Regions from separate parts of the Homo sapiens genome. Here region 1 is linked to region 2. Evidence: fine-mapped expression QTL. A gene starts in region 2. The other region holds a variant in brackets. All regions are shown on one strand. Distances are from middle to middle. Region 1 holds the start of MIR1285-2 (microRNA 1285-2). Region 2 holds the start of SNRPG (small nuclear ribonucleoprotein polypeptide G).

Region 1 (4,525 bases), 41 kb after region 2:
GCCACCATGCCTGGTCCTGTTTGTTTTCTTCTTGTTAATCTGTCTTTTGTTACAGGGGTCTATCACAACCAAAACCTCGGAAGGGTAGAGGAAAACTCTTTTTTTCTCCCCAACATACCATACAATAGAACATTATGCATGCATTAAAAGGAAGCCAGGCACGGTGGCTCACGCCTGTAATCCCAGCACTCTGGGAGACCAAGGCAGGCAGAATATCTGAGGTCAGGAGTTCAAGACCAGCCTGGCCAACGTGGCAAAACTCTGCCTCTACTAAGAATACAAAAATTAGCTGGGCGTGGTGATGCATGCCTGTAATCCCACCTACTTGGGAGGTTGAGGCAGGAGAATCACTTGAACTTGGGAGGCCAAGGTTGCAGTGAGCTGAGATTGCACCACTGCACTCCAACCTGACAGGCTGATCTCAAAAAAAAAAAAAATTACAAAAAAAGAATGTTGGAGCTTGGCGCAGTGGCTCACACCTGTAATCCCAGCACTTTGGGAGGCTGAAGCAGGCAGATCACCTGAGGTCAGGAATTTGAGACCAGGCTGGTCAACATGGTGAAACCCTGTCTCTACTACTAAAAATATAAAAATCAGCCAGGCGTGGTAGCGCACACCTGTAATCCCAGCTACTCAGGAACGCTGAGACAGGACAATTGCTTGAACCCAGGAGGCAGAGGCTGCAGTGAGCCAAGATTACGCCACTGCACTCCAACCTGGGCGACAGAGTGAGACTCCGTCTCAAAAAAAAAAAAAATGGGTCTATAACTAATGTCCTAGTATTATCAGTTGAGAAAAGCTTGTGGTTGCATGATGGGTATAAAATGATCTCATGCCTCTTTTCCTTTCTCTGCCATCGTGGTGTGTTCTTGACTCCACCCTCACCATGTCTTCTCACAAGACTTTCAGGATTAAGTGATTCCTGCCCAAGAAACAAAAGCAAAATCGTCCCATTCCCCAGTGGATTCGGATGAAAACTGGAAATAAAATCAGGTACAACTCCAAAAGGAGACATTGGAGAAGAACCAAGCTGGGTCTATAAGGAATTGTACATGAGATGGCACACATATTTATGCTGTCTGAAGGTCACGATCACGTTACCATATCAAGCTGAAAATGTCACCCCTATCTGGAGAGTTCGACGTGTTTTCCTCTCCGAATCTGTTATGAACGCATTGGTTGGCTGGGTTCAGTAATAAATATGTGAGGCCTTTCATTTAAAAAAAAAAAGTCTCATTTCTGTAATTACAATACTTCACCCAAACAAACAAACAAAAATAACTAGTACATGAACATGAAGAACAATATAGATGAGAAGAAAATAGGTTGGATACAAAATAAAGTTAAACTTGGAGAAAGAGGCTGGGCTCAGTGGCTCACACCTGTAATCCCAGCACTTTGGGAGGCTAGGGCAGGCGGACGATTTGAGCCCAGGGTTCGAGACCAGCCTGAGCAAAATGGCGAAACCCCGTTTCTACGAAAAAATACAAAAAAATTAGCCTGGCATGGTGGTGTGCACCTGTAGTCCCAGCTACTCAGGAGGCTGAGGCAGGAGGATCACCTGAGCCTGGGAGGTAGAGGCTGAGGTGAGCAGTGATTGTGGTACTGCATTCCAGTCTGGGCACAGAGTGAGACTCTGCCCCCCAACCTCCAAAAAAAAAAAAAAAAAAAAAAAAGGTACATGTACCAGGATACAACTGCAACATTATTTGTAATACAATAGGTTTTTGAAAAGTAGTAACCTGAATATCCATCAATGCCAGTTATGGTAATTTATTCAATTTACCATTCAATACATTGGGGAACTTTCATTTTATGGACGATTTTGCAACTATTAAAAAACTATTAGGCCAGGACTGGGCGCAGTGGCTCACACCTGTAATTCCAGCATTTTGGGAGGCCGAGGCTGGTGCATCACTTGAGCCCAGCAATTTGAGACCAATCTGGGCAACAAAGTGAGACCTCCGTCTCTACAAAGAATACAAAAATTAGCTGGGCGTGGGCCGGGCATGGTGGCTCATGCCTGTAATCCCAGCACTTTGGGAGGCCGAGGCAGGCGGATGACCTGAGGTCAGGAA[T/A]TCGAGACCAGCCTGGCCAATATGGTGAAACCCCATCTCTACTAAAAATACAAAAATTGGCCGGGTGTGGTGGCAGGCGCTTGTAATCCCAGCAACTCAGGAGGCTGAGGCAGGAGAATTGCTTGAACCCGGGAGGTGGAGGTTGCAGTGAGCTGAGATCGAGCCATTGCACTCCAGCCTGGGCAACAAGAGTGAAACTCTATCTCAAAAAAAAAAAAAAATTAGCCAGGCATGGTGGCACGTGCCTGTAGTCCCAGCTACTCAGGAGGCTAAGGTAGCAGGAACACCTGAGCCTGGAGGCAGAGGCTGCAGTGAGCTGACATCATTGCCACTGCACTCCAGCCTGGGCAACAGAGCGAGACCCTGTCTCAAAAAAAAAAAAAAAAAAAAAAGCCCGGCGCAGTGGCTCACACCTGTAATCCCAGCATTTTGGGAGGCCAAGGTGGGCGGATCACTTGAGGTTAGGAGTTTGAGACCAGACAGTCCAACATGGTGACACCCCATCTCTACTAAAAAATGCAAAAATTAGCGGGGCATGCTGGCCCACGCCTGTAATCTCAGCTACTAGGCGGGCTGAGGCAGGAAAATCGCTTGAACCTGGGAGGCAGAGGTTGCAGTGAGCTGAGATCAGGCGGGTGGATCATTTGAAGTCAGGAGTTTGAGACCAGCCTGGCCATCATGGTGAAATCCTGTCTCTACTAAAAATAAAAAAAAATTAGGCCGGGCATGGTGGCTCACGCCTGTAATCCCAGCACTTTGGGAGGCCGAGGCAGGCAGATCATCTGAGGTCAGGAATTCAAGACCAGCCTGACCAACACGGAGAAACCCCATCTCTACTAAAAATATAAAATTAGCCGGGCATGGTGGCACATGCCTGTAATCCCACCTACTCGGGAGGCTGAGGCAGGAGAATCGCTTGAACCCGGGAGGTGGAGGTGGCAGTGAGCCGAGATCATGCCATTGCACTCCAGCCTGGGCAACAAGAGCGAAACTCTGTCTCAAAAAAAAAAACTAGCCAGGTGTGGTGGCTCACACCTGTAATCCCAACTACTCTGGAGGCTGAGGCACAAGAAACGCTTGAGCCCAGGAGACAGAGTTCACAGTGAGCCAAGACACTGTCACTCTGGGTGACACTCTGTAAAAAAAAAACAAAAAACAAAAAAAAAAACCCTAAAAATCCCAAGTGTATACATGTGCATCTGTATAGAGTAAAATGTGGAATATTACAGATGAATCTATTAATATTACTTACCTCAAAAGGAGGAAGAAGATACATTTTTAATATTTTCCTTATGTATCCATTTCATTTCATTTGTAACACTAAGCACGTTGTACTTTTGTAACTTAAAAACTACTTTAAAAAAAGTACTTGTGCAATATCCATATAATGGAGTTTTATTTGGGAATAAAAAGGAATGAAGTACCGATACACGTTACAACATAGATGACCCTGAAAAGCATAATGTTAAGTGAAATAAGTCAGTTACAAGAAACCATATATTACATGCTTCCATTTATATGAAATGTCTAGAATAGGCAAATCTATAGGGGCAGAAAGACTAGTGGCTGGGACATGGAATGGGATGAGGGACAGGGAGTGTCTGCTAATTGCTACGGGTTTCCTTTTTGAGGTGAAGAAAATGTTATAAAATTGATTGTGGTGATTGTTGCACACACACCTCTGTGAATAAACTAAAAACCATTAAACTGAAAAACACTTTATATGGATGTCCCAAAAAGGTGTTTTTAAAACACCATCCCCATTAACATTTGTTTTATTCACCATCAAAAGACTAGTACTTGATATCTTTGAAAATAATCTGAAGAATGTGTCAGAGACTCTAAAGACAATTCCAAAAATGAAAAATCCAGAATGTATACAGTCTGAAGAAACTACTTTAAAGAGGACATCACGTTTTTGTTTTTTTGGTGTTTTGTTTTGTTTTTGAGGAGTCTTGCTCTGTGGCCCAGGGGCTCACTGCAACCTCCGACTCCCGGGTTCAAGTGATTCTCCTCCTACCTCAGCCTCCCGAGTAGCCGGGATTACAGACATGTGCCGCCACATCTGGCTAATTTTTGTATTTTAAAGTAGAGACGGGGTTTCTCCATGTTGGCCACGCTGGTCTTGAACTCCTGAGCTCTAGTGATCTGCCTGCCTCGGTCTCCCAAAGACTGGGATTACAGGCGTGAGCCGCCCCGCTCAGCCGACATCACGTTTTTCGATGTGTAAATTCTCCTATGTTTAAAAAATATTTCTACAACTTAAATAAACTTACATCATAGATATTTTCCAGTTCAACACTACAGATCTGATTAATAGCTTTTCAATAACTGCAAAATAGTCCATAAAATGAATGTTCCATCTGGGGGCAGCGGCTCACGTCTGTTATCTCAGCACTTTGGGAGGCTAAGGCAGGCAGATCACCTGAGGTCAGGAGTTCAAGACC
Region 2 (4,000 bases):
TGCAAAATATGTGATGAGTTTAAGTCTTTACTATCATTGATATTTATATAGAGCCATTCCAGAATATCAGGAATTAACTGAATTTTTGAGAACTATCCCCTATTTAAACACAAGGTATTCTATTTTGGTTTAGTCTTCTATAATTTTGGGGTAACAACTGGGAACAAGTCCGAGACCACTTTTTACACATCTTGACATGAAAAAAGAACACCTTATATTAGAAAATGTTTGTGTGCTGCACTTCACATTTTATATACAGGGGCAATAGCACATCAGTGAGTTCTGGAGGTAGTGTTTGAAAAATTTCAGAATTCCCAGGCATGCTGGCTAACCCCTGTAATCTCAGCACTTTGGGAGCCGGAGGCAGGCAGATCTCTTGAGGCCAGGAATTTGAGAACAGCCTGGGCAACAAAGCAAGACCTCGTCTCTACAAAAAAAAATTAGCTGGGTGCAGTGGCGTGCGCCTGTAGTCTCAACAACTCAGGAGGCTGAGGTGGAAGGATTGCTTGAGGCCAGGAGTTCGAGGTTGCAGTGAGCCATGATCACACCATGCTCCCCAGCCTAGGCGACAGAGCAAGAACTCATCTCAAAAAAAATTTTTTTTGCAAGACCCCTCAGTCAGAAATAGATTCAAATTCTTGGAGACAGACCCAGTCACCTTACTCTACAATGGTTCAGAGGCTGCTAATTTACATGTTACGGGAACCCTACTTGGTCTGACAGTATGCTGTAGGGTTACCTGCCAAAAAAATATAGAGGCCCAGCCGGGAGCGGGGGCTCACGCCTGTAATCCCAGCACTTTGGGAGGCCGAGGCCAGCGGATCACGAGGTCAGGAGATCAAGACCATCCTGGCTAACACAGTGAAATACGGTGTCTACTAAAAATACAAAAAATCAGCCCGGCGTGGTGGCGGGCACCTGTTGTCCCAGCTACTCGGGAGGCTGAGGCAGGAGAATGGCGTGAACCCGGGAGGCAGAGCTTGCAGTGAGCCGAGATCGCGCCACTGCACTCCAGCCTGGGCGACAGAGCAAGACTCCGTCTCAAAAAAATATACATATATAGAGAGAGGCCCATTCCTCCAGGGATCATTATCATTTGGTATATTGGTATATATGAAGAAAATAAGCGATACGATCCACAGACATGCGGGATTGGCCGGGTTTGCCCAGGAGCTAGAGACGGGACCGTTATCTCAATATCTCAATTTTATTTTTTAAATAGAGAAGGGGTCTCGCTATGTTGCACAGGCTGGTCTCGAACTCCTGGGCTCAAGAGATCCAAAGTTCTGGGATTTACGGCGCCCGGCTTTTTTTATTTATTTATTTATTTTTATTTATTTTGGCTGTTCCATAGACAAGAGCAGGGATAACCGGCTGGGCGCGGTAGCTCACGCCTGTAATCCTAGCACTTTGGGAGGCCGAGGCGGGCGGATAACGAGGTCAGGAGATCGAGACCATCCTGGCTAACACGGCGAAACCCCGTCTCTACTAAAAAATACACAAAATTAGCCGGGCATGGTGGCGGGCGCCTGTAGTCCCAGCTATTCGGGTGGCTGAGGCAGGAGAATGGCGTGAGGCCGGGAGGCGGAGCTTGCAGTGAGCCGAGATCGCGCCACTGCACTCCAGCCTGGGCGACAGAGCTAGACTCCGTCTCAAAAAGAAAAGAAAAAGAGCAGGGATACCCACCGGTGGAATACCCGTTATCTCAATTTTGTACAAGGAAAACGGAATTCAGAAAGGTGCCTAGAGGACGCACCCCTCCGTCCTGGCCAATCGCTGAGGACATAACCGGAAGCTCAACGATGACCGAGGCGCTGAGATATCGCGAGGTGAAATGTAAAAACTGCCAACAATCCATTGGCTAACGAGGTCGATGACGCCAGACGCAAGACGCCGGGCCTACAGCGGGAGCGTGAGGAAAGCCGTGCGTTGCGTTCCAAGGCATCTGTGAGCCCGCGGAGTATACACCATGAGCAAAGCTCACCCTCCCGAGTTGAAAAAGTAAGTATGTGTGAGAGCCAAACCGAAGTGGTCAGTTATTTGCGTCCTGCGAGTCCCTTGGTTCCCTCTCCGTTAGCCGAATGTCTTGAGCCGCTTCACTTCATTTCTTCTTCCGGTCCGAGGTCGCCGGGATCCCGGCCAGGCTCCCGCGCATGAGACGTGAAGCCCGCGCAGAGCTCGCGCGTCGGTGTGGTTACAGCCGGCAGCCACGGCACCTCCTTCCGGCCGACTAGTCTCCAGGTCCCGCGGTCTGGCCCCTGGTCACCCGGCGCTGTCCCTCGTTCCTTGAAGATCTCCAGTGCTACCTTTTGTTGAACATCTCGAATAGTATCATGTTCTAGATAGACGGCTAGAGGGGGAAATTCTCTGAAGGAACTAAGGAGGGGCTGGAAGGGAAGGAAGTGTTTTTAAAACTACGTGAGGCATCAGAATCCGAAAGCCACTTTAGTCTTAGCAAATGTGTTTGTAGGTGTTTGAGCTTTTACTTAGAAACCTCATTCCTTTTTCTTGCCTTCTTTTACGTTAAGCTTGAATGTCATGTGTTATCTTGCTCTGATGTTGAAACTATATAAGAACATTCATTTTTCTTTTTTTTTAAGAACATTAATTTTTTCTAGTCAGAGAAGGCTAATTTTTTGAAGTTTTTTCTACACACCCAGTAAAGTCAAACAACTTTAAGTAGGAGAGCCTTACTTTAGGTAGGACTCAACGTAAAGCTTTGAATTCCTCAAATACTTTTTGAGTGGACTTAACAGGTTATGTGTTTCCTGACTACGTTTCTGTTTTGCTTATACTTCCTGATGCTGGAATTCTACATGTATTAGTTGGATTGCACAAAGGATGCAAAATTTTTACAGGGATCAGTTTTTTCTGGCGTAGCATGTGGTTGGCTTTGTGTATAGTTAGTTCATTTATTACCAGGCCCATGGAAGTCAGACAAAAGGTAAAGTTCCTATTTAATAATTTTGCGGCCGGGCACAGTGGCTCACGCCTGTAATCCCAGCACTTTGGGAGGCTGAGGCGGGAGGATCACCTGAGGTCAGGAGTTCGAGACCAGCCTGGCCAACATGGTGAAACCCCCGTCTCTACTAAAAATACAAAAAATTAGCCAGGCAGGTGGTGTGCGCCTGTAGTCTCAGCTATTCCGGAGGTTGAGGCAGGAGAATCGCTTGAACCCGGGAAGCGGAGGTTGCAGTGAGTCAAGATCGCGCCATTGCCCTCCAGCCTGGGTAACAAGACCGAAACTCTGTTTCAAAAAATAATAATATTTTTGCATTTAAAGGTCCATTTGTATCAAAGCCATCTTTTGTATGAAAACTACTTCTATGTATATTTTAGTTAGGTCTGTTAAGGAATTAATTATTAAAACATAAGCCCAACGCGGTGGCTCACGCCTGTAATCCCAGCACTTTGGGAGGCCGAGGCGGGCGGATCACGAGGTCAGGAGATGGAGATCATCATGGCTAAAACGGTGAAACCCCGTGTCTATAAAAATACAAAAAATTACGTGGGCTTGGTGGCGGGCGCTTGTAGTCCCAGCTACTCGGGAGGCTGAGGCAGGAGAATGGCGTGAACCCGGGAGGCGGAGCTTGCAGTGAGCCGAGATCGCGCCACTGCACTCCAGCCTGGGCAACAGAGCGAGACTCCGTCTCAAAAAAAAAAAAAAAAATAGAAGTTACTCAGAAATTATTGTGAAAATTACTCTTTTTATCTGAAAGTTATTTTTGGTGATGTAAGTATCCTCTGGATTCATCAGGGACTGGTGAAATGGTGATTTTTTTTTTTTTAACAAAAAGACCATTCTCTACTTGTAATCTAAGATTTTCTTTCTGATTCATAACATAGTTTTTGAAAATTTCAGAGAAGGAAGCTAGTTTTAATACCTTTCTCTTCCTCGTAGGTTTCATGAATTGTGAAATCCGGTCAGATCTGCCGCCAAAATGACTTAAAAATTTTTTCTTCCTCTGCTTTCTCACAGATAGCATCTTCTTTTACACCA

The links. PIP is the estimated chance that this variant, and not a neighbour inherited with it, causes the effect. A credible set is the group of variants that fine-mapping cannot tell apart.
Region 1: its variant is the best candidate, but not a certain one, in a credible set for the expression of SNRPG in whole blood (INTERVAL, PIP 0.59).

The regions. Positions count from the first base shown.
Region 1 is chr2:70,250,372-70,254,896 of GRCh38, reverse strand. It overlaps MIR1285-2 (microRNA 1285-2), which reads left to right and starts at 1,892; the gene lies at 1,892-1,979. It also overlaps the pseudogene RPL39P15. The variant T/A (reference allele first, on the strand shown) is at 2,079.
Region 2 is chr2:70,291,619-70,295,618 of GRCh38, reverse strand. It overlaps SNRPG (small nuclear ribonucleoprotein polypeptide G), which reads left to right and starts at 1,879. Exons shown (of 4, transcript NM_003096.4): 1 at 1,879-2,001. The coding sequence starts at 1,970. LOC124906023 (a long non-coding RNA gene) reads right to left here and starts at 1,717. Exons shown (of 2, transcript XR_007086880.1): 1 at 1,687-1,717; 2 at 1-561. RefSeq lists enhancers at 1,718-2,197, 2,214-3,121.